3 separate regions of the Homo sapiens genome follow, and regions 2 and 3 are each linked to region 1. Evidence: fine-mapped expression QTL. A gene starts in region 1. Each other region holds a variant in brackets. All regions are shown on one strand. Distances are from middle to middle.

What was found. PIP is the estimated chance that this variant, and not a neighbour inherited with it, causes the effect.
Region 2: its variant is fine-mapped to the expression of AAMDC in tibial artery (GTEx, PIP 0.99).
Region 3: its variant is fine-mapped to the expression of AAMDC in blood mononuclear cells (TOPMed, PIP above 0.99).

What each region holds. Positions count from the first base shown.
Region 1 is chr11:77,816,148-77,824,338 of GRCh38, forward strand. AAMDC (adipogenesis associated Mth938 domain containing) reads left to right here and starts at 4,997. Exons shown (of 4, transcript NM_024684.4): 1 at 4,997-5,094. It overlaps RSF1 (remodeling and spacing factor 1), which reads right to left and starts at 4,575. Exons shown (of 16, transcript NM_016578.4): 1 at 4,381-4,575. The coding sequence starts at 4,567. RefSeq lists enhancers at 2,956-3,929, 3,225-3,334, 3,930-4,902, 4,455-4,624, 4,635-4,774 and silencers at 3,965-4,054, 4,195-4,284, 4,875-5,034.
Region 2 is chr11:78,589,741-78,597,931 of GRCh38, forward strand. No RefSeq gene overlaps it. Among named protein-coding and RNA genes, the nearest start is that of NARS2, 19 kb to the left of the region's middle. The variant C/T (reference allele first, on the strand shown) is at 4,536.
Region 3 is chr11:77,985,983-77,994,159 of GRCh38, forward strand. INTS4 (integrator complex subunit 4) reads right to left here. Exons shown (of 23, transcript NM_033547.4): 2 at 5,126-5,317. Among named protein-coding and RNA genes, the nearest start is that of INTS4, 4.6 kb to the right of the region's middle. The variant T/A (reference allele first, on the strand shown) is at 4,833.

The DNA of each region.
Region 1 (8,191 bases):
CAACTAAAAAGTTTCAACCTAACCAGGCTCTGGCCCCAGCAATACTACTATTAATGTATGTATGCCCTACCAGTGTCTACCACTGTAGACTCATGCAACCTCTAGTACATGCACCTGGTAAAATCTTTTGTTTAAATCAACACATGTGGCCCCAGTTACAGTAATCACCTTTCCACTTTATCAAATGCACCTAAAAATATATTGTTACACACAGATCAGTTACAGTACCAGTAAGAGAGACCATAGTAAGTTATAGTTACAATTCCAGTTAAAAAGGCATTTTTTTAACTTTGATATTTTCACTTCGAGTTAAAATTCAAATCATTAAATGCAAAAATGAAACAAAAAACTAATGGCTCAACTTACTTAATATCATACAACTAATTCAGCCAACCATAGTATAAACTATGAGAATCCTAACACATTATCTGTATTTACCTTAATAAATTTATTAGATATATGTAACATCTCAACCAATATCCAGACTGTTTTTAAAGAATACAGTAGTATAGTTTCCTCTTGAAAAGAAATATTCTCTGCAGGAGAGGAAAGATACTTAGGAGCCTTGGGTGTCAGGGATCTCACAAAGTCAACGTCAACTTTATCCATAACCACCATCATCTACCTCCAGTTAGGAGAAACCTGGGGAAGTCCACACAAAGCACAGAATTGGGAGGACTAAAGTAGACTGCAGGGAGAGGAGGATAAAACACCACCTTCATTTGGCACATCCTTTTATAACTAGTATCAACTATAAATCTAAATTTTTTGTTGACAATTTCAGCATATATGTGGGCTTTTCAAATAAGAATTTGACTAACACCAACAGTTAGCTGTATACACTTGAAATCTCTCTCTGTAGCTTGATTTTCCTCCTGAAAAATAAAGGCAATGACACAATAGTCCCTTCTTTCTTGCCCCGAAATTCAATGATAGTTTCTAGAGCAAAGGTTCTCAAACATTCTAGCTTCACGGCACCCTCAGTATCTCAGTAATTTTCTCACAGCAGCCCTAGGCCAGAAATAATAACACTTCCACTTATTAAGTAGTCAGTAGCCATGTGAAAAAATAACCTAGCTAAATTTCAACAAATAATGTTTTTACTTCATTCTTAACCATAATTACTTGTGAAATGTGTATTACTGTTGGGCACTGCACAACTTTTCAAACCTTGGAATCAGAGTGGACCCTGCTATCCTCTTTCCTGCTGCATACTGACTTTTTTGTGAATTTTACCACAGCAACCGCTAAAAAACCAGCTTCACAAAGACATATCATCTATAGAAATGTGGCACAACCTTGAAACCATGAAGTATGTCAAGGCAGTAGCTCACCTGGCAACCAGCAAATTTCGGCTACCACTGTATCCTACTTGAAAATTTAAACTATCAGATGGAGTTGGCAACAATGCTCTAGGGTGCCTTGGTGCAGTTTGGAAACCATGATACTATGGCAAGGTATATAATTTTGTGGCTTTGGACTCAGACTTGGGTTGGAAATCATATTCTACCATTAACTATAGACTCTTAAGCACCTTAATCTATTGAGCCTTAGTTTCTATGCCTGCCAAATAGGAATAATACTATCAACTTCAGAGAACAGTTGCAAGGAACTAAATCCATGTCTTTTAACTCTTGTACACTACAACTCTTTCCCAAAAAGACTCAGTTCAAATCTTGTTGGCTGAGCCACTATCATTTTATCAGCTATTTGAAACAGGCTGAAAGTTTGTAATAGCTGATAAAACGACAGAGGTTCACCCAACAAGCCAACTTTGATGATGATATCATGGTTCATCATCAAAGTTCTGAAAATCGTTTCCCTGCACAGTAACAGCATTTCACCTGCAGAGACTTCTCATTTGCCAAGTGTTCTGAACTGTGTAACATTAATTAATAATTATTCTAAGATCACCTTATGATAGGATCTATTATTATCAGTCCCCTTAGCAACTCTATACCAACGGTAATGCAGTGGCTGAAATAAATGATCCTTCTTAGCCCAGGTTACCTGTCATTTTTACTTACTTAGTGAACCACTATTCAATTCAACTGACTCTAATATTGTATTCCTGTGATATTAATATAAACTAAATGCACTGGTCAAAATACCTAAAATAAATGTAGATTCAAGCAATCTCATATACTACCCAAAATACCACGCCATCCCAGAAAACCTATGCATTTCAACTTGGTCCAAAGAAATTACCAAAACAATTTACTAGCCATCCTTTCCCCAAATGCCCACAGTTCGTTCTCTGAGAGATACATTACTATCACTTCCCAAGGCATCCTAAAAGCAACTTACTAAGGCATCCTACTTCACAATGACTACCTTCTTAAAAATTAAAAAACGGGCCAGGCTTGGTGGCTCACGCCTGTAAAGCACTTTGGGAGGCCAAGGTGTGTGGATCACGAGGTCAGGAGTTCGAGATCAGCCTGGCAAACATGGTGAAACCCCGTCTCTACTAAAAATACAAAAATTAGCCGGGCTCGGTGGTGCACACCTGTAATCCCAGCTACTCGGGAGGCTGGGGCAGGAGAATCGCTTGAACCTGGGAGGCGGAGGTAGCAGTGAGCCCAGATCCTGCCACTGCATTCCTGCCTGGGCAACAGAGTGAGACTCCGTCTCAAAAAACAAATAAAAATAAAAAATATAAAAAAGAATGTAAATACAATTTGATAATGAAATTACTACAATGGGAGCTTAATTTTTAAACAAATTCTGTGAGAAGCCTTTATATAATGTAATTAGTCACCCTCCTATTTTGTACTATTTTTTAAATTAGCCTTTTGTAAGCCAGTTTGTTACAGGTAGAGGGAATGTGGACAGGTAAGAACAGATTACTAGGCTTATATTATAACTGCTGTATTAATTTGAGTCTTCGGTAGCCATAACATCATACAGATTCTTTATAGGTAATATTCTGAAGAACTTCATACTTGGCGCTTCCTAGCAATGCAAATAAATTCAGTTAACAGAAACTTCTTCATTTACATAGAGAATAGAAGAGCGACCCTGCTTTCTTGGAAAGGAAACAGCTATCTGTCTTGTACAATAACCAATCCACTTTGGCCAGCTAATATGGACAAAAAAAGAGACCTATTTGGAAAACGTTTCTTCTCCAGCCAAGGGCTGTTTCCAGATAAAGGCAATGCTCAGAGTATAACAAAAAAGCCTTCTCTGAGGAAAGAAAAGTGCCAGAAAAGGAGAGGCAGGGATCGGGAATAAATGGGGGTGAGTATAAGCACTCAGTGTGAAGGCTGGAGGCAGCAGGCGCAGCGCTGAGATGCTCCAGCAAAAGAACCAGCAGCAGCAGCAGGAAGTTTCAATGGGGCCGGGCAGAGCATGCGCCCTGCACCCGCGCGGTGGCCTTATGTGGAAGGAGCACCACTTGCGAACACCAATAATAGACCAGCGGCACCAGAGAGAGAAACATGAGCAACAAGCACCTTCTTCAACTGTTTCCCCCTCCGTCAGAGCCCCTCCTCCAGCTTACATACTAACCACCCCACCCTACCGTGCAAATGGGAGGGAGACGACTTCTTCGCCTAAGCCCGGCTGCCAAGATGAAGGGGGAAGGGATTGGAAAAGTGGGGAGATGCTCGCCTATTATTTTGGGGGAGGTGGGGAGAGGAAGGAGAACTATGGAGGAGGAATTAACCCTCTCCTCTCCACAGTGGAGCTGAACCGACTTCGCCCCCCTACCGAGAATGGAGAAGAACCCCCTCCCGTGGGGGAGGAGCAGACCTCCCCACTTCAAGGAAGGAGTTTTAGGGGTTAAAGCAGCCCTCGAGGGGAAGGGAAAAGGGACAAATCTCTCAGGGGAGTTCCCAACAGAGGGAGGGAGAGTTGAGTGTCCGCTGGCCCCCGCCCACCCAGGTGAAGGGAGATAAGGAGGTGTCCGGAGCAGCCGAGCCCAGCCTTCCCCGAGATGGTCGGGAAGACTGGTGGGAGGAGGGGAGGGAGTAAGGGTGGGGAGGAGGAGAAAAGCGCAAAGCTGGCCGGAACCTGCGCTCCCCTTCCCCCGCCGCCAAGGGGGAGACGGGGTGGGGGGCCGCCCTCCGCCGCGGAGAAGCAGTCCCCGGGGCTGCCGACCGGCACAATGACCCCTCCCCGCCTCCAGCCCACACCTAGCCCGCAACGCCTCCACCTCAGCTCCCCGCCCGGCCGAGTGGCCCTAGGGGGCCTCCGCCCCGCCTCCCCACTGCCCAAGACCCCGGGGGCTGGGCGGAGAAGACCAGCCCGGCGGAGTTGCGTCCCAGGGGGAAGACAGAGCCGCGGAGGCCCGAGCCGCGAAGAACCGGGGCGCCTGTGAAGAGCGGAGAGTAGCAGAGCGCCAGGGCCGCTTCCCGCCGGGCGTTCGGGCCCCTCGCTTACCTTCTCCGTTGCCGACGTCCGGCGGCGGCGCCTGCAGCACCCGCTCCAGCTCAGGGAACGGCAACTCAGGCAGGTCTAGCAGCGGCCCGTAGCGCTCCAAGAAGGAGCAGACTACGGCGAAGTTGGGGCACGAACCCGGGCAGCCCGGAGGAGCCATCACCGCCGCCGCTGCCGCCGCCGTCGCCATTTTGAACTGGAGGATGGAGGAGGAGGCGATGGGGGGGCGGGGGAAGTTGTGGTGCCGAGGGATGGCAAGGCAACCTTACAGACGACAGGAGGCGCTCTCAAGTGGGCTCCTCTGCGGATCCCAGCGTCTCAGGGACGGCTCCGCGATCCCACAATACATCGGCGGCCCGGAGCAGTCGAGAACCGAGTCAGACGGGAGACAGAGCGGCCCTCGGCGCCTTTCACTTTCCGCCCTCTTTCCGCCCCCTTCTCTCCTCCCCTTCGGGCTTGCCACTGCCTCGTGTGACAGGGGGAATGAAAACAAGGGAAGCGGGGCGGGGAGGCGGGCTGGAAGCGGGAGGGGCGGGACTTCTCGAGAACAATGGCCAATGGACGCAGAGGGGGCGGGGCCTCGGGCGCTGTTCAACTGCAGGGCGTATTCCCGGAGGGCAGTTGGGGAGCGCAGATCCCGAAGCAGCGCTGGGAGCGTAAGTGCGGGCAGAGCACTGCGCCGTTTGGGAACGCAACTTTGAGGAGACAGTGCGGTGGGTGAGTTTGCGGGGGAATCCTGAAACTGGGCCACGAGATGGTGGAGAGGTTGAGGAGAATTAATAAACAGAAAAAGGGAATAGGGCGGGGGAAAGCACAGTTGTGGGAGAAGGTTGGGAAGGGGAAAGGTAGAGGTGTGCCCTTAATTAGGGGCTGGGCTGGGACCTCGGTAAGATGTCTCTGTGGAAGTTTGCCGACGGGGTATTGCTCTCTGCTGGGGTACAGGAATCGCAGCTTTGCTGGAAAAGCAGGATCTGAGGGAACGGAACTCTGGGGGAATCGTCGGAGTGAGGAGTTGGGGCCCTGCTGGGAGAAGAGGATCTGAGGAGACCAGGCTCTGCTAGGGGGCCATGGTGTGAGGGGAAGGGGCTCTGTTCAGGGACCAGAATCGGAGTGTGGGCTGGGACTCCATTGAGAGGCGGAACATGACAGGAGACGGTGGAGCAGCGAAAAGTTTGTTAGAAGACAGGGTTCCACTTCGGGGCGGGGCGGGGGCAGTGAACATTCCCACAAAGAACGCCAGAGAGAAACTACCAATAATGTAAAATAGAATGTGCAGCCTGAGAAGCAGCAGTACACGTTATGCTTAGAAGCCTGAGCTTTGGATTCAGCCAGGCCTGAGTCCTAGCGGGGCTACTTCATGACACTGTGGAGGTTTCTTTATTTCTTTGAACTCCTTAGAGTGGGGTGATAATAGTACCTACATCATACGGTATTACTAGATAAATCACAGTAAAGTGATTAGCACAGTGCCGTAGCACATAGTGAGTACTTTAAAAATATTAGTTATCAAAAAAGGAGTTCCTATAATTTAGACTGAATTCCGCTATATTTATTTAGTCTATAATTTATTACTTTGAGAATTTTCTGAGTGCATTTAAAACTCAATGTAGTACCTAATTCCTAAAAAGAATTTGGCCGGGCGCGGTGGCTCATGCCTGTAATCCCAACACTTTGGGAAACCGAGGTGGGTGCATCACCTGAGCTCTGCAGTTCCAGACCAGCCTGGGCAACATGGTGAAACCCCGTCTCTAGTAAAAATAACGAAAATTAGCCGGGAATCCTTGGGAGGCTGATGCAGGAGAACCCCTTGAACCGGGGAGGCGAAGGTTGCAGTGAGTCGAGGTCGCGCCACTGCACTCCAGCCTGAGCGACAGAGCAAGACTCCACCTCAAAAAAAAAAAAAAAAAAAAAGAATTTGAAGCAAGGTACAACACAAACCATGTAAAAAAGAGAAATCTGTAATTATAGAAAGATAAGAAATAGATGGGCAAATAATTATATGAGTAACAGGGAAAATGGTCACACAAACACCGAATTTTTTTCTTCATTTCCAGGTTTTAAAAAGGGGAAAAACCATAAGGGTGTGTATTATTCCCATTATCTAAAGAAAGAATACTCAATTTATCAAGAGAAAAATTCTATATTGTAAGAAGAATTTATTGCCTTGAATAGTGATTCATAGTCTTGAGTGGTATACAAACCGTTTTTAAAGGAAAAAAGTTCTTTTGAAACTTGGCAAATACTTTTGAAAATTTCACTGTAAGAAATACTGATGTAAGAAATCAAAGTCTAAAGAACACTGTAAATGTACTTAATGCCACTGAAGTATACACTTAAAGTGGTTAAAATGGCATATTTTATGTTACATGTATTTTACGACAATAAAAAAGCTTTTAAGAAATTAAAATCCGCCGGGCGCTGTGGCTCACGCCTGTAATCCCAGCACTTTGGGAGGTCGAGACGGGCGGGTCACGAGGTCAGGAGATCAAGACCATCCTGGCTAACGCGGTGAAACCCGTCTCTACTAAAAATACAAAAAATTAGCCGGGCGTGGTGGCGGCGGGCCCCTGTAGACAGCTACTCGGGAGGCTGAGGCAGGAGAATGGCATGGACCCGGGAGGCGGAGCTTGCAGTGAGCCAAGGTTGTGCCACTGCACTCCAGCCTGGGCGACAGAGCAAGACTCCGTCTCAAAAAAAAAAAAAAAAAAAAGAAATTAAAATCCTACTTCAGGAAAATATCTTTATGGTTATGAATTATCACTGCCAAAGAAGTTTTAATTTAATAAGTCGGAAAATATTGTTTTTAAGCAATTACTGAAATGAAACACAAAACTAAACTAAAACATTTTTATAGAATTCCCAAACGGGCAAGTGTATATCTCTTGACCCTGGGGACCTGAAGACTCCAGTTTAAAAATAATCTGGGCGAGGTGGGGTGGCTCATGCCTGTAATCCAAGCACTCTGGGAGGCCGAGCAGGAGGACCCCTTGAGCCAAGGAGTTCGAGACCAGCCTGGGCAAGGTAGTGAGACCTCATCTGTAATCCCATGTAGTTGCCACTGCACTCCAGCCTGGGCGACAGAACTACACCCTGTCTCAAAAAAAAAAAAAAAAAAAAAGAATAATTTGACCCAGAATACAGTTTTAACAACAGTTTTGTGGAAACATACAAAGACTTTCATATACTGGTTACTTAACTGACCTTAAATAAAAGCCAGGTACAGGATATTTTAAAATAAAATTGTATCTTTGTGAAGGAATTTCTATGGAAAGAACCTTCAAACCTAAAAGGAAGATTTATTATGTGAACCTTGCCTGTACTTTCTATCTTTGCTTCTAGCTTTTGCAGCACTTCACTTCCCACATTCCAGTGAGGTTGTGAAATAACATTCTAAAAAAAAAAAAAAGCTTTATTACTATAGTTTTCTTTTCTCACTGCTCACACTGTTAGTCAAACAGACTGATAAATAAAGGTTAGAGTTTCTGCCTTTTCTAATCTAGATCGGCAGGGAAACAGAGTCCTTTGGCATCAGAAAGTTATATCCACCCAAAGATAAGAAGTGTTTTGCTACAAAGCAAGGTTTAAGCATGCCTTCCTTCACTAAAGTCTGTTCTTGAAAATAAATGACACACACCCATAATGCTATCATCACTTCTTGCTTTCCTGGGCTAAGAGAAATTGTGGAATACAGAGCTTAACGACAATTTATGTAGTTATATAAGTGAGTTATATTTATCAGACTGGAATGTAAAGGTGCAAAAAAGAGTAGCTATTTTTAAAACCTGTATTTGATTTATTGCTACTGCCATGAAGA
Region 2 (8,191 bases), 770 kb after region 1:
AAATCCACCTATTTATGGTCAATTGATCTTTGATGAAGATACCAAAAACATCCCGTGGGGAAGGGAAAATCTCTTCAATAAATGGTGCTGGGAAAACTGGATATTCACATGCAGAAGAATCAAATTGGACCCTTATCTCACCCCATATACAAAAATCAACTCCAAATAGATTAAAAACTTAAATTTGAGACCTGAAACTGTAAACTACTAGAAGAAAACATAGGGAAATAGCTTTTTGACATTGGTGTTGGCAAAGATTTTAAAAATATAGCCCCAAAAGCACAGGCAACAAAAGGATGGGTACACAAATCGAATTGCATGAAACTAAAAAGCTACACAGCACAGGAAACAAGTAACAGAGTGAAGAGACAACCAAAAGAGTGGGAGAAAGTATTTGCAAACCATACATCTGATATGGGGCTAATAGCCATAATATATAAGGAACTCAAACAATTCAATTGCGAAAAAACAACCAGATTTTAAAATGGGCAAAGTACCTCAATAGAGACGTCTCTAAAGAAGACACAAAATAGTCAATATATATATGAAAAAATGTTCAACATTCCTAATCATCAGGGACATGCAAATTAATTAAATATCACCTCACACCTGTTAGAAGAACTACTATCAGAAAGATGAAAGACAAGTTTGGAGAGGATACAGAGAAAAGGAACTCTTATACATTGCTGGTGGGAATGTAAATTAATACAGTCATTATGGAAAACCAGTATGAAGATTCCTCTTCAAAAAATTAAAAATAGAACTATTATCATATGCTTCAACAATTCTACTTCTGAGTATATATCCAAAGAAAATGAAAACAGTATATGAAAGACATATCTGCACTCCTATGTTCAATGAAGCGTTATTTACAATAGCCAAGACACGGAATCAATCTAAATGTTCATTAACAGATTAATGGATAAAGAAAATGTACATGCACACAATGGAATACTATTCAGCTCTTTAAAAGAAGGAAATCCTGTCATTTGTGACAACATGAATGAACCTGGAAAACATTATGCTACGTGAAATAAGCAAGGCGTAGAAAGACAAATATTGCATGGTCTTATGACTCTAAAAACAGTCAATCTGAGATGCAGAGAGTAGAATGGTGATTACCAGGGTCTGGTTATGAGGAATGGGGAGATGCTGATAAAAAGGTACAAAGTTTTAGTTAGACACAAGTAAGTTCGGGTGATCTATTGTAAAAATGGTGACTACAGCTAATAATAATGTACTGTGTACTTGAAAATGGCTAAGAGAGGCTGGGCGTGGTGGCTCACGCCTGTAATCCCAGCACTTTGTGAGGCCAAGGCCGGTGAATCACTTGAGGTCAGGAGTTCTAGACCAGCCTGGCCAAGATGGTGATACCCCATCTCTACTAAAAATACAAAAATTAGCTGGGCATGGTGGCACGTGCCTGTGATTCCAGCTACTTGCAAGGCTGAGGTGGGAGAATCGCTTGAACCCAGGAGACGGAGGTTACAGTGAGCCAAGATCATGCCACTGCACTCCAGCCTGGGCGACAGAGCGAGACTCCATCTCAAAAAAAAGAGAGGAGACATTATGGATTAAAGGAAAAATAAAACACATAGCAATCAAATGTAATGCATGAATGCTTACTTGGATTATGACTTAAGTCAACAGAGAAAAGATATATTTTTTAAAGACATAAAAATAGTTCAACAGCACAGAGTATTATTTTTTGAGTTTCTCTAAGATTGATATTATTTCCTTTTTAAGTGTTTGAATATAATTCATTGTGTAGTCATGTGGGCCTAGAGCTTCCTTCATGAGAAAGTTAAATTAAATTAAATTAATTAATTATTTTAGAGACAAGGTCTTGCTATGTTCCCCATGCTGGTCTTGAACTTCTGGGCTCAAGCAATCCCCTCTCCTCAGTCTTCCAGAGTTCTGAGATTATAGGCATGGGCCACTGCACTCGGCCTATGAGACGGTTTTGAATTACAGATTTAACATGTTTAATAAATATGATGTTGTGCAGATTTTGTATTTCTTTTTCCGTCAGTTTTTGTAAGTTGTATGTTTTGAGAAATTTATCTAAGCAGCTAAATTTCTTGGCATAAAATTGTTCATATTATTCTTTCAGTGTCTGTAGGATCTGTAATGACGTCCTTTAATTCCTAATATTAGTTGATATTGAGGAATTATGCACAAAATTCTTCGCTGTTAAAGATACAATCCTAAAGAATTTATGGGTGAAATGTGATATCTAGAATTTGGTTTTAGATATTTCAGAAAAAAAATAAAACAGTATAGATGGAATAGATGAAATAGGACTGGTAAAATGTTGAAAAATATTGAAGTTGGGTAACATACACAGGAATTCATTGTACTATTCATGTTGGAGATTTTTCTATAATAAAAATGGTATGTAAAAAAGAATGGGAGAAGAGAAATTGGAGACAGGGTTTTCAAGAAGTTTTGTTGTAAGGGGAGCAGAAAAACTGAGGTGGTAACTGGTGGAAGAATGTGGTCATGAAAGCGGACTTCTTTAATATGTGAGAAATAATAGCATGTTTGTCTGGTGATAAGAAAGATCTGATTTTTCCATTAGAGCCCTTAGCATATTAATCACCATTGTTTTAAATTCCTGGTCTAATAATTCTAACATCTCTGCCATATCTGAGTCTGATTCTAATGCTTGCTCTGTCTCTTCAAACTGTGTTTTTTTTTTTGTCTTTTAGTTTATCTTGTAATTTTATTTTTTTTAATCTTTATCTTTAATTTTTTTGTTGAAAGTTGGACACAATGTAGTGGATAAAAGGAACTGAGGTAAATACATCTTTATTTTCATTTATTTATTTATTTATTTTGAGATGGAGTCTCGGTCTGTTACCCAGGCCGAAGCGCAGAGGCGTGATCTCGGCACACTGCAACCTCCGCCTCCTGGGTTCAGGTGATTCTCCAGCCTCAGTCTCCCAAGTAGCTGGAACTACAGGCACGAGCCATCACACCTGGGCTAATTTTTGTATTTTTAGTAGAGATGGGATTTCACCATGTTGGCCAGGCTGGTCTCAAACTCCTGACCTCAAGTGATCCACCCTCCTTGGCCTCCCAAAGTGCTAGGATTACAGGTGTGAGCCACCACACCCGGCCTGTAAATAAGTCTTCAGTGGGAAGTTGTATATTTATCTTATTTATCTAGTTAGAAGTTAGGCTGTGTTTACTGTTTGTTGTAGCTGTGGGAGTCAGAGGCAAAAATTTCCTCCGGTGTCCTTGTTTTTGTCTCACCTGTTATCTTTGGATTTCCCTAGAGACTTCTTGGGAGGTCTCAGAAATAACATGCAGTTATTTCTGTTGTACTCCCTTATTATCATACAGATAAGTCCTGTTGATATAGTGGTGAGGTGTGGAGAGAGAGGAAGAATTCTATAGACCTGTGATTAGGTCTTAGACTTTAGCGAGCCTGTGCTCCTGGGCTGCACCTTTCACAAGCGCTTCTCAGTTCTTTCCCGCTTTAGTTGGCAAAAAGGGGCTGGAGTTGGGTATTTTCCTTCTCCTGTGATTAGTCTCTGGTAAAATCCAGTCAGCTAGCCTCTGATAACATAGTTTCCATTGAGAGCAGGCTTTGTTAAGAAGAGCTGGACACTTTGGCATATTTCGAATGGCTATTTTTCCCCTCCTCTTGCCAGAAGCATGAGGATTTTTTTTTTGTTTTTTTTTTTTTTGCTGATCTTCACCCTGAGAACCTGGTAGGGTTCTTGGAGGTAAAACTCACGAAAGTGGAGGTAAAATCCAGTATGACTGGCCACATGCCCTGGAGTTTTTAACTTTCAAACTTGTCCACACAGAGCCTCCAGCAATTCATCTATTATAGTTTGGGTTTTTCGTTCCCCAGTACTCGTTCTTGCAGAGTTTTCTGCCCCTGGGCTTCTATTCCAGTAAGTTGTGATTCTCTGTATTTACCCATTTGTCTCTCCAGTTTGGGGGACAGAAGTGTGCCCTGTTACTTCAACTGATTTTCAGTTTATTTAGCTTTTTTATTGTTGTGAAGACAGGAGTGATGACTTCCAAGCTCCTTACTTGCTAGACCAGAAACCGGAAGGGAAAGATCTAGAAGAGAGGAAAACTTGACACAGGAAAGACAGAAGAAAATTCCTAGTGTTGATGAGTTTGAATTGGTGAAAGGGGGTGTGATCTAGTGTTCAAGTGGAGGACTAGCCTTAGCTGATAACATCATGAGCACTTTATATTAGCACAGAGAAGGTAGAGGACATGGGCGCACATGAAGATTGATGGGTATGTGGGGGTATATATGATAGTGGGAACTTGTAGAGACATCCTCTTTAATTTGCTTCTATTTCACAATGAAATAGGAAGGAAGGTTTTCTGTAGAGAAAGACGGATGGACAGACACACACACGAGAGAGAGAGAGAATGGCAAAGTAGATGTTAGAGTTTTGAAAAGAGGAAAAAGATTATGAAAGAATTATTTGGATCATTTAGGAGAGTGGGAGAGTTAATGGACTAGAGAAAGATTGCCAGGCAGAATTGGGGCCCATCTGAGG[C/T]TTATGGGTCACAGTTTTGAAGTGATGCCCCTGGACTCAGAAAACAATATTTTAAATTCATTAGAGTAAAATGTACTAGTATTATCCAATATCCATTTTCCTCCTTTTAATAACAGAAGCCCAGAATTGTAGCTGGGTACATGTCCCTCCCCCACCCCCCACAAAGACATTTCTCAGCTTCCGTTGCAGGTAGGTGTGGTCATGTAACAGTCAACTGTGTTCTGGTAAATAGAATATAGCACAAGTGGTTTGTGTAATTTCTTGAAACTGTCTTTACAAAATTGTATCAGAGAGAAAATTATGTCAATGGGGGAGATCTGATCTAGTCAACCCCCGTCTTGCCTTTATTTTAGCCTTTGGGCTGCCTTTGATTATTCCTGGGCTGGCTTTGGGAGACATCTAGTTTAAAGTTTAAGTGAAAATAACCCTTCCCCCAAAACTCAACCACCTTTATAAAGCTGAGAGGTCACCAGGCTAGGAGGATAGAGGACCCTGAATTTTACTAAGGTGTAGACATAAATGACTGCCAGCCATTATTCCAGAGGTCATGAGATTTGCAACCTCCCCAGTTGCTCCTGCAGATAACGTCACTATTGTAGAACCTAAGATTGGCCTTTTGAAATATCCTCTCAGGTTTCCTGCATGTCTGACACGTGTGACCCCATCAGGATCCACAGACCAATGGTGGCTCCATCTGGACCTACCCACTGCTCCTGTCCCACCCAGAAGCCACTTAGCATGCTGGAGGGTCATTCCTGACACGCCTATGATTGTACCCCTGAGCCAATCAGCAGCCACCCTCACCCCTTCTACCTTTGAAAAACCCTAGCCTCTGAATTCTTGGGAAGACTGATTTGGGTAATAATAAAACTCCAGTCCCCCATTCAGCCAGCTCTTCATGAATTAAATTCTTTCTCCACTGCAATTCCCTTGCCTTGGTAAATTGACTCTATCTGGGCAGTGGGCAATAAGAACTCATTAGGCAGCTGCATTCTAGGAAGAATCATTAAAGGGAGGGTTTATCACTAAGAGTGAGGATGGAGAAAGATGTAAATGATTGAAAGAGAGAAAAGCCATGAAAGTATTATCTAGGAGGGTAGAAGAGTGAACAAACTGGAGAAATGTGTTATGATTATTAGGCAGCATTAGGAATTTCTCTTGGAAGTTAGTGGCCATGATGGAAGGACTATTTAACAGGCTATTTTATGCGAGTTGGTTGACATGGAGGAAAAAACATTTTTTTTTCCTCTGCTTTCATGCCACAGCAATCAACAAAGAAGACTTCTGTGACCTCTGGTTGTTAGAGTAGTTAGCGAGGCAGACGTGAGCAGGTCAGGAGAGGCCCCCTAACCAACCCCCAGGAATGTCAGGCGACCATCACGTGATCGTCAGGCGGTTGTTAAACTGTCTCTCTAAAATGATAATTGGTCACAGCTGGCATCAGCGGACGACCGTCTCCCAAAAGATAGAAAACATCTTGAGCTGGTGATCAGCAGCTTCCACATAAGATCTCAGGAGTTGGGCAAGTGGGCTTGAGTATGTGCTCTAACCGGCAAAATATCAGATGTATGACCTTCCTTTGGGGGTGTTAGACTGGTAAAATAAAATCGCCCCTACAGAGCATGTGCACAACCTCAGTAAATGCACTATGCATGTGGTCACCCCCTTGAGTGCTGACTGACACCTCGCATGCAGCGGTTGAACAACAGCCCACCCCAAGGGAAAAATTAAGGGAGGAGAAAGTAAAGCCCCCAAACCATGCCAACGTATAAAACCCCAAGTCAAGGACCAAATGGGGTACTTGGATCTCTCAAGTTGCCCGCTTGTCCCTCTTCCAAGTGTACTTTGCTTCCTTTTGCTCCTTTTCTAAAACATTTTTTTTTTTAATTTGAGAGGTTTTATTAGATGGTGGGAGTTTGAAGCTTTTAATTTTTTCTAATTTTTTTTTACAATGAACACATACAGCTTCTGTAATCGTTAAAGTAGTCATTTTAAAATGAATGATGGATTTTTAGAAAATTTTTTCTTAAGCACCTACAGTGAACTAGGTACTGTTTTTGATGTTTGTTCACATCGCTGCATGGAGCTTAATGTTCTAGCATGGATGGAGACGATAAATAATGCTCCCTACACATAATAAACACATTATTAGGATATTAGAATCCACTGAGAACATGGAGAAAAGAAAAAGTAAAGTAGAGCAAGGGGGGTTGGGAGTGCTCAGTGGGGTGGGAGTGCAGATTGCAGAATGGGCTTCATTGAGGAAAAAGCAGGAAGTCAGGAGTTGGCCCTGGGCATGTTCCAGGTAGAGGAAGCAGTGGGTGCAAAGGCCCTAAGGAGGAAACACAGCTGGGGTGTTCCAGCCACAGCCAGGAGTCTGTGCTGGAGCAGTGATTGGGAAGGTCAGGTCCACAGGAAAACATGACACTTCTTGGTTTAGATGATTAAGAAAGGTTGCCTTGTTTTCTTCCTGTCTACCTGATTTGTTCTGTTTCTTCTGCAGTTAAAGGACACTTACTCCCCCCACCCCCAACACACACACACACACACACACACACACACACACACACAAAATACATACATTAGGCCTCTAGTACCATATTAATTTGCTAGGGCTGCCATAACGAATTAGGCAAAGAGAAAGAGCTGAAAACAACAGAAATGTATTGTTTTACAGGTCTGTCGGCTAGAAGTACAAAATCAAGTTAGGGCCATGCTCCCTGTGAGACACGTCAGCAGGAAACCTTGCTTGGCTCTTCCTAGCTTCTGGTGGTTGTTGGCAATCCTCAGCGTTCCTGGGCCGCAGCTGCATTCCTCCAATCTCTGCTTCCATCATCACCTGGCATTCTCACTGTGTGTCTGTGTCTTTACTTCGGTATCTTCCCTCTCCTTTTTTTTTTTAAAGGCAAATGAAGAAAGTATTTATTTATACTAACACAGTATAAAGCAATTAATCCTCGCTGTTAGCCATAATTAAATTCCTCAAAACGAAGAATTTCAACTTGTGAGCTGGAGCAAATCTCCCTCTATGGCTTCCTGGGGAGGGCAGGCATCTTCTCCGGCTCCTCTCTGCACTGCCACACTGGGCTGGTGCTACTCTGTTCCTATTGATTCCAAAGAGTTCCTCAAGGTGAGAGACTGGTGAATTGACTTTGCAAGTTTTTTTTTTTTTTTAAATTATACTTTAAATTCTGGGATACATGTGCAGAATATGCAGGTTTGTTACATAGGAATACATATGCCATGGTGGTTTGCTGCACCCATAACCTGTCATCTACATTAGGTATTTCTCCTAATGCTATCCCTCCCCTAGCACCCCCCACCCCAAACAGGCCCCGGTGTGTGATGTTCCCCTCCCTGTGTCCATGTGTTCTCCTTGTTCAACTCTCACTTATGAGTGAGAACATGCGGTGTTTGGTTTTCTGTTCCTGTGTTAGTTTGCTGAGAATGATGGTTTTCAGCTTCATCCATGTCCCTGCAAAGAACATGAACTCATCCTTTTTTATGGCTGCATAGTATTCCTGGTGTATATGTGTCACATTTTCCTTATCCAGTCTATCACTGATGGGCATTTGGGTTGGTTCCAAGTCTTTGCTATTGTGAACAGTGCCACAATAAACATACATGTGCATGTGTCTTTATAGCAGAATCATTTA
Region 3 (8,177 bases), 170 kb after region 1:
CCACATTTCTGGATAGAACAGAAGAAAGGGTAAAAAACACTATGGTCAACAATCTAGAACTGGGTCCATCTGGCATCCCTCCTCATTTCCTTAGGAGCTAGGGTCCACTTGATTAATGCATGCAGCATGGACTGGTTAAAGTGCTTGAGATCTGACATCAGAACACCTGAGTTAAATTTTGCTTTTAGACATGACAAAAGATTATGTTTTTTAAGAGTCTTCGCCACATTTATGCAGCCAACAGACACATGAAAAAATGCTCACCATCACTGGTCATCAGAGAAATGCAAATCAAAACCACAATGAGATACCATCTCACATCAGTTAGAATGGCAATCATTAAAAAGTCAGGCAACAACAGATGCTGGAGAGGATGTGGAGAAATAGGAACACTTTTACACTGTTGGGAGTGTAAATTAGTTCAACCATTGTGGAAGAGAGTGCGGCAATTCCTCAAGGATCTAGAACTAGAAATACCATTTGACCCAGCAATCCCATTACTGGGTATATACCCAAAGGATTATAAATCATGCTACTATAAAGATACATGTGCACGTATGTTTATTGCGGCACTATTCACAAGAGCAAAGACTTGGAAGTAACCCAAATGTCCACCAACGATAGACTGGATTAAGAAAATGTGGCACATATACACCATGGAATACTATGCAGCCATAAAAAAGGATGCGTTCATGTCCTTCGCAGGGAAATGGATGAAGCTGAAAACCATCCTTCTCAGCAAACTATCACAAGGACAGAAAACCAAACACCGCATGTTCTCACTCATAGGTGGGAATTGAACAGTGAGAACACTTGGACACAGGGCGGGAAACATCACACACCGGGGCCTGTTGGGGAGTGGGGGGCTGGGGGAGGGATAGCATTAGGAGAAATACCTAAAGTAAATGATGAGTTAATGGGTGCAGCAAGCCAACATGGCACATGTATACACATGTAACAAACCTGCACGTTGTGCACATGTGCCCTAGAACCTAAAGTATAATAATAAAAAAAGAGTCTTCACCACTTAAAGATATAAATCAAAATTTATGATTAAAATAATATGATGCCAGGAATTTATTTTCATAAGAATCTGGTGGAGAAGGTGAGGGTAAAGAAGTAGAAGTGGATTGGGGAAGAGGGAAAATGAAACAAGTTTGGCCACAAAATGATAATTTTTGAAGCCAGGTAATGGGTACATGGGAATTAATTAAACTATTCTCTTTACTTACATAGTATATATCTGAAATGTTCCATAACAAAAGGTTTTTTAAAAAAAAAACCCAAGTTCAAATCCATACCTTCCATTTACTAGCTGGGTGACCTTGGATACTAAACAGCTCTAAGCTTAGTTCCATATCTGGAATTTAGAGATAACAATGGTGCTGTCACCAGGATTAAATAAAATATTACATATGGAAAGTGCTTTCAAACTCTAACAAGCAATATAATGTTAACTGCTCTAAGAAGTATTATTATAGATGATTATTGGTAACAGATCTTTAATATAATAATAATGGTAGATATTGCTAAGAAAAAGACTAACGGAAAATAGATCACTGAGAGATCGAAAACTTCTTGAGAACAGAAATCCTGATTTTGGTCAGATGTGGTAGCTCACGTCTGTAATCCCAATCCTTTGGGAGGGCCAAGCAGGAGGGTTGCTTGAGCTCAGGAATTCGCGACCAGCCTGGGCAACACAGAGAGACTCCATCTCTACAAAAAAAATTAAAAAGAAAAAATTAGCCGGGAGTGGTGGCATGTGCCTGTGGTCCCAGCTCCTCAGGAGGCTGAGGTGGGAGGATGGCTTGAGCCTGGGAGTCCAGACTTCAGTGGGCAGTGATCACGCCATTGCACTCTAGATTGGGCAACAGAGCAACACTCAAAAAGATGCCAGGCACAGTGGTTCATGCCTGTAATCCCAGCACTTTGGGAGGCTGAGGTAGGTGAATCGCTTGAGCCCAGGAGTTTGAGACCAACCTTGGTAACATGGTGAAACCTCATCTCTATCAAAAATATAAAAATTAGCCAGTCTCATAACCCAGTCTCTAGATAGATAGATACGATTTTTTAAAAAATTTTTTAAAGAAAAGAACAACAAAAAAAGAAAGCCTGATTTTATTCACGTAAAACATAAGTGAAACATTTATAATGTCCCTTCAATGTTCCTAGGAACCTGCCAGGCACTGGGATAGAGACTAATGGATCTGCAGCCTCTGAATTTACGGAGCTCAAAGTCTGAAGGAGATAGACACATATGGCAAACAATTGCAACGCATAAGACTTAACAATTGTGCTAATGGACACCGTCCAGTGCCCAGAACAAAGTCTGATATATATTTGTTGAGTAAAATGTATCACAAAAGCATCAATTAATTCATTTATTCATTCAACAAATATTTATTTTACCAGGCACTGTTCTTGATTCTGTAGAAACAACAATTAAAAAACATAAAAATCCCTGCTCAAGGGAAGCTTATGTTCCTGCATGGGGAAATGGACAAGGAACATAATTAACAAGAAATTATACAGAATATTAGAAGATGGTAATTACTATGGAGAAAACAAAATCAAGGAAGGGGACTAGGAAGTGCGGGGTGGGGATAGGCAGTTTCGATATGAAACAGAAGGGTAAAGGAAGACCTCAATGTAACGGTGACATTTGCATGCTGATAGCTGCAATATGAAGTACAAGTCACCATTTATAACATAGTCTTAAAATTGTCAAAAATATGCTTAACTTAAATCTAACAAAGCCTATAGATCTAACTTTCAGTTCATAGTAAATACAGAGAACAGAGGAACAAGTTAATCCTTAAAGAAGTAAATGAATTCAGAAAACAAGACATTTTACAAAAGAACTGTCTCAGTTTCTTCATCAAATCAATGTCACCAAAATAGTAACTGTTGTAGATTTTTGAAAAGACTGAATGCCATGTGGGGACCTGGTTTGCATTTTGATTTGAATACATCAACTATAAAAAGGTACTGGGAGAACAACTACAGAAATCTAAATATCAACTAATTCTTAGATGACATTAAAGAATTACTTAACTTTATTCATTAGGGTTAGGTGGCTATGTTAAAAAATAAAAAGTCCCTCTACTTTCTCATAGCAGTGAGAAAAAAAAAGAAAACAACAAAAAGGTATCCCTTTTTAATAGATATGTAATGAAATAATTAGAAAAAAATGACATATCTTTTTAAAAATTCAACAAAACAAGGCTGGGCGCGGTGGCTCACACCTGTAATCCCAGCACTTTGGGAGGCCGAGGCAGGTGGATCACCCGAGGTCTGGAATTCGAGACTAGCCTGGCCAACATGGTGAAACCCCATCTCTACTAAAAATACAGAATTAGCTGAGCGTGATGGCGCACTCCTGTAGTCCCAGCTACTTGGGAGGCTGAGGCAGGAGAACTGCTTGAACCCAGGAGTGCTATTACACTCCAGCCTGGGCAACAGAGTGAGACTCATCTCAAAAAAAATAATAACAAAATAAAATAAAATTCAGCGAAAAAATAGAGCAAATTTGGCAAAATACTAATAACTGTTAAATTCTAGGAATGGATATTTGGTAGGTCACTATAGTATTTTATCTACTTTTCCATAAGCTTAACAATTTGGGGGCTGAGTGTGGTGGTTCACACCTGTAATCTCAGCAATTTGGAAGCCCAAGGAGGGTGGATTGCTTGAGCCCAGGAATTCGAGATCAGCCTGTGCAACATAGCAAAGCCCTGTCTCTACAAAAAAAAAAAAAAAATACAAAAATTAGCCAGGCATGCTGCACATGCCTGTAGTCCCAGCTACTCAGAAGGCTGAGGCAGGAGGATCAATTGAGCCTCGGAGGTCGAGGGTACAGTGAGCCGTGATAGCACCACTGCACTCCCGCCTGGGCGAGAAAGCAAGACCCCATCTCAAAAATAATAATAGTAATAATAATAATGATTTTTGGGCTGGGAATGGTAGCTCACGCTTGCAATCCCAGCACTTTGGGAGGCCAGGGTGCATGGATCACTTGAGGTCAGGAGTACAAGACCAGCCTGGCCAACACAGCAAAACCCCACCTCTACTAAAAATACAAAAAAAATTAGCTGGGTGTGGTGTCACACACCTGCGGTCCTAGCCACTCTGGAGGCTGACGCAGGAGAATCACTTAAACCAAAGAGACGGAGGTTGCAGTGAGCCAAGATTGTGCCACCACTATACTCCAGGCTGAGTGACAGACCAAGTCTCAAAAAAAAAAAAAAAAAAAATGCAAAACTTAGCCTGGAGTAGTGGCACGTCTGCAGTCCCACCTACGTGGAAGGCTGAGCCAGGAGAATCACTTAAGCCCAGGAGTTCCAGGCTACAGTGACCTATGATGATGCCACTAAACTCTAGGCTGGGTGACAGTGAGCCTCTGTCTCAAAAACAGTTTTTTTGGCCAGACGCAGTGGCTCACGCCTGTAATCCTAACACTTTGGGAGGCCAAGGTGGCTGCATCACTTAAAGTCAGGAGTTCGAGACCAGCCTGGCCAACATGGCAAAACCCCGTCTCTACTAAAAATACAAAAATTAGCAGGGTGTGGTGGCACGTGCCTGTAATCCCAGCTACTAAGGAGGCTGAGGCAGGAGAATCGCTTGAACCCAGGAGGCAGAGGTTGCAGCGAGCCAAGATTGCACTACTGCACTCCAGCATGGGCAACAGAGCGAGACTCTGTCTCCAAAAAAAAAAAAAAAAAAATGTATTTTTAATTAAAAAAGAGGGCCACTGCAATTAGATATGAGGGCCATGAATTAGGAAAGGAACAGCAGGACCACATTCCAGAGATGAATGGGTCATGATTGATATT[T/A]ACTCCTCTTTTGTGCTTCCACTGTACTCTGCACATACTGCACTCACAGTAACTTCAGCAGTATGATGCACCTTATCATTGACATGTCTTGTTTCCATCTACTATACACAGTATAACTTTCTGAGGTCAAGATCTGTATCTTTTTTATCTCGGTATCCATAGTACCTAGCACTTGGAAGACACTCAATAAAAGCTTCCTAATGAATACCCTATTTATTTGTAATATTAACCATTCTGCAGACATGATACAACTCCCATGATATACTCCCATCAGATCCTCAAGATTTTCTTACCTTGTAATAATGTTCCAAGAGAATCCTGACTACTCCCTCTACGCTTTCCGCCTCGACAGGCTTCCTGGCAAACTGGAGCAAGTATTGCAAAGCATCTGCTGGGGAGGTAGCTTTACACAGATCTATGTGGAGTGCTGCAGATTTACTTGGTTTTGTTAGTCGGAGTTTCTTAGTAGCAATTTCCTCCTGTGGCTGCAAGGGGTAGAGAAAATCGAAAACACAGAATCTGCAAATTTAACTTTGCCTCATTTGGTGGAAATGATTTTCCATTATACCAAATAATATATTTAGCTGATGGACTTAGGAAAATACAGTATTATAAACCAGAAAGAGTACCGGGTTGGTGACAAGGCCATGAGTCTCAATTTTGCCTTTACCAGTTCCTATGACTTTAGGCAAGTCATTTAATTTCTCCGAGTCTCAGTTTATGTCTCTGTAAAATAGGTATACTTTTTTTTTTTCTTAGAGATGGAGTCTCTCTATGTTGCCCAGGCTGGTCTTAACTCCTGGGCTCAAGCAATCCTGGCACCTCAGCCTCCCAAAGTGCTGGGATTACAAGCATGAGCCACGGTGCCCAGCCTTACACTAACATTTTGCTCTACCTATCTCTGAGGATTGTGGTAGCCTTTGGGTTTAGAGGTCACACAAAGGATCTACTCCATTTTTTTGAGACAGAGCAAGACACTGTCGCCCAGGCAGGAGTGCAATGGTGCAATCTTGGCTTGCTGCAATCTCCACCTCCTAGGTTCAAATGATTCTCTGACTGACACCCAACATGCTGGGATTATAGGTGTGTGCCACCTCCACCTACTACGTTCAAGCGATTCACCTCCCTGACTCCCAACTAGCTGGAATTACAGGTGTGTGCCACCACACATGGCTAATTTTTGTATTTCTAGTAGAGACAGGTTTTGCCATGTTACCCAGGCTGGTTTCGAACTTCTGGCCTCAAGTGATCCCTCTGCTTCAGTCTCCCAAAGTCCATTCTTTATTAGAAAACAAATATCAGACATGGCATGGTGGCTCATGCCTGTAATCCCAGCACTTTGAGAGGCTTAGGCAGGCGGATCACTTGAGGCCAGGAGTTCAAGACCAGCCTGGCCAACATGGCAAAACCCCATCTCTACTAAAAACACAAAAATTAGCTGGGGGTGGTGGTGTATGCCTGCAGTCCCAGCTATGCAGGAGGCTGAGGATTGCGTGAACCCAGGAGGCAGAAGTTGCAGTGAGCTAGGATTGCGCAACTGCACACCAGTTTGGGCGAAAAGAGCGAAACTCCATCTCAAAACAGAAGAAAAGGAAACAAATATCCGATGGGCGTAGTGGCTTACACCTGAAATCCTAGCACTTTGGGAGGCTGAGGCAGGAGGATCCCTTGAGCCCAGGAGTTCGAGACCAGCCTGGGCAACATGGTGAAATCCTGTCTCTGTTAAAAAATAATAATAAAATAAAATAAATTTCCTTACCACCTAATGGTGCGTTTTTATGTACTGAGCAATCACCTCCTTACAAATTCACATTTCTATAGAAAAGAGAGTAGAATTATTCTAGACAAGAACACAGTATGACATGATAAAAAGAATAAGGACTTTGGAGTCAGAGGAATTTGTATTCAATTACAACTTACTAGCTGGGGAAGGCCTTCTTCTATAGGAGGGCATACCAATACTTTATTATCACAGAGCTAGTCGATAAATCTGTTATTAAACATAACTTTATTATACGTATATGTAAGTGCTAGGCACATATCAGTTCTCCCTCCTCATCTTTTCAGCGGAGAAAAAAGAACAGAAGCACTAAGATCTCATTTAATCACTTTATGTTAACAACTGATGAAAAATTAAGTGAAGAAATTAGCTCTTCCCTTAAAATTCTTAGCCATTTCTATCCTAGTCCTCTCAAACTCAGTTTTCAGTCTTATCGAAGCTGTAGTTAGGTCAAAAGCTAGGAATTTTTTCCCTAAGTATTATATAAGGGAGAGGACAAGCAATATCAACTGTCATTCAACCACCAATAACACTTTAGTGAGCCAGGCCCTATTGTCCATCTCCAGGACACGGAGATGAGCCAGGCATTAGCTCTGCCATCAAGGACCTCCGACTGGTGGGAAGATAGGTACACCGGTAATGACAGCAGCACTGAACAAAAAGTACAAATAGATTAGTACCACAGAATGCTACAGAAACAGGTGAAGAAGAGACTAAGCTCTCGCTGAGGTTTCATTTGGGTCTTGAAGCACAAATGTTAAGTCCACTGGGTGGAGAACAAAAAGAAAGGGAAGAATGGCATGTATTCTGTGAGAAGAGACAACCAGTGCAAGAGTTTTGAGATATGCAAACACAAGAACACATGGCATATCTGGTCATGTGAGGATGGGTGGAAGAGGGCTGAGCAGTCTTGGGAAATGGGAACAACAGAATGTTGGGAAGAGAGGAAATCACATTGTGCAACAGTGCTAATGTTCTTAATGCCACTGAACTTTATACTTAAAATTGTTAAAATTGTAAATTTTATATTATGTATTGACATATTTTGTATTTGTATTAACATATTTTAATGCTGGATGAATGAATCCATGTAATGTTTAAGGATCAGTATCCTGCTGGATGCTCTAAGCCTTGCCACTCTACAAGTCTAAGGATCTAAGAATGCAACCAATGCACTGGTGTAAATTTGGGGGCATGTCAGGAATGCAGAATCTTGCCTCACCTCCTCTGCTTGACTTATCAAATAGAATCGACATTTGAACAACGTCCCCAGGTAATTTGTATACACATTAATATCTGAGAAATAGGACATCAGGATGATTTAGGATCAACCCTAGCAACATCTACGTGGAGACACATGGAGCATCACTGACTCCCGACAGGGACTCTGCCCACCTGTCACAACTTCATGGTGAGGAAGGTACTGCCCTCCTTCCTAGGTGAGCTGTTCTACCAATAGAGAGCTCTTCCCCTATGAAGTCTGTGACCCCCGCCTGCTTAGACTGCGCCTGAAGGAATTCTATAGACCCTTCTTTCAGCCCCTTAGAACCTTGTGTATATTCCAA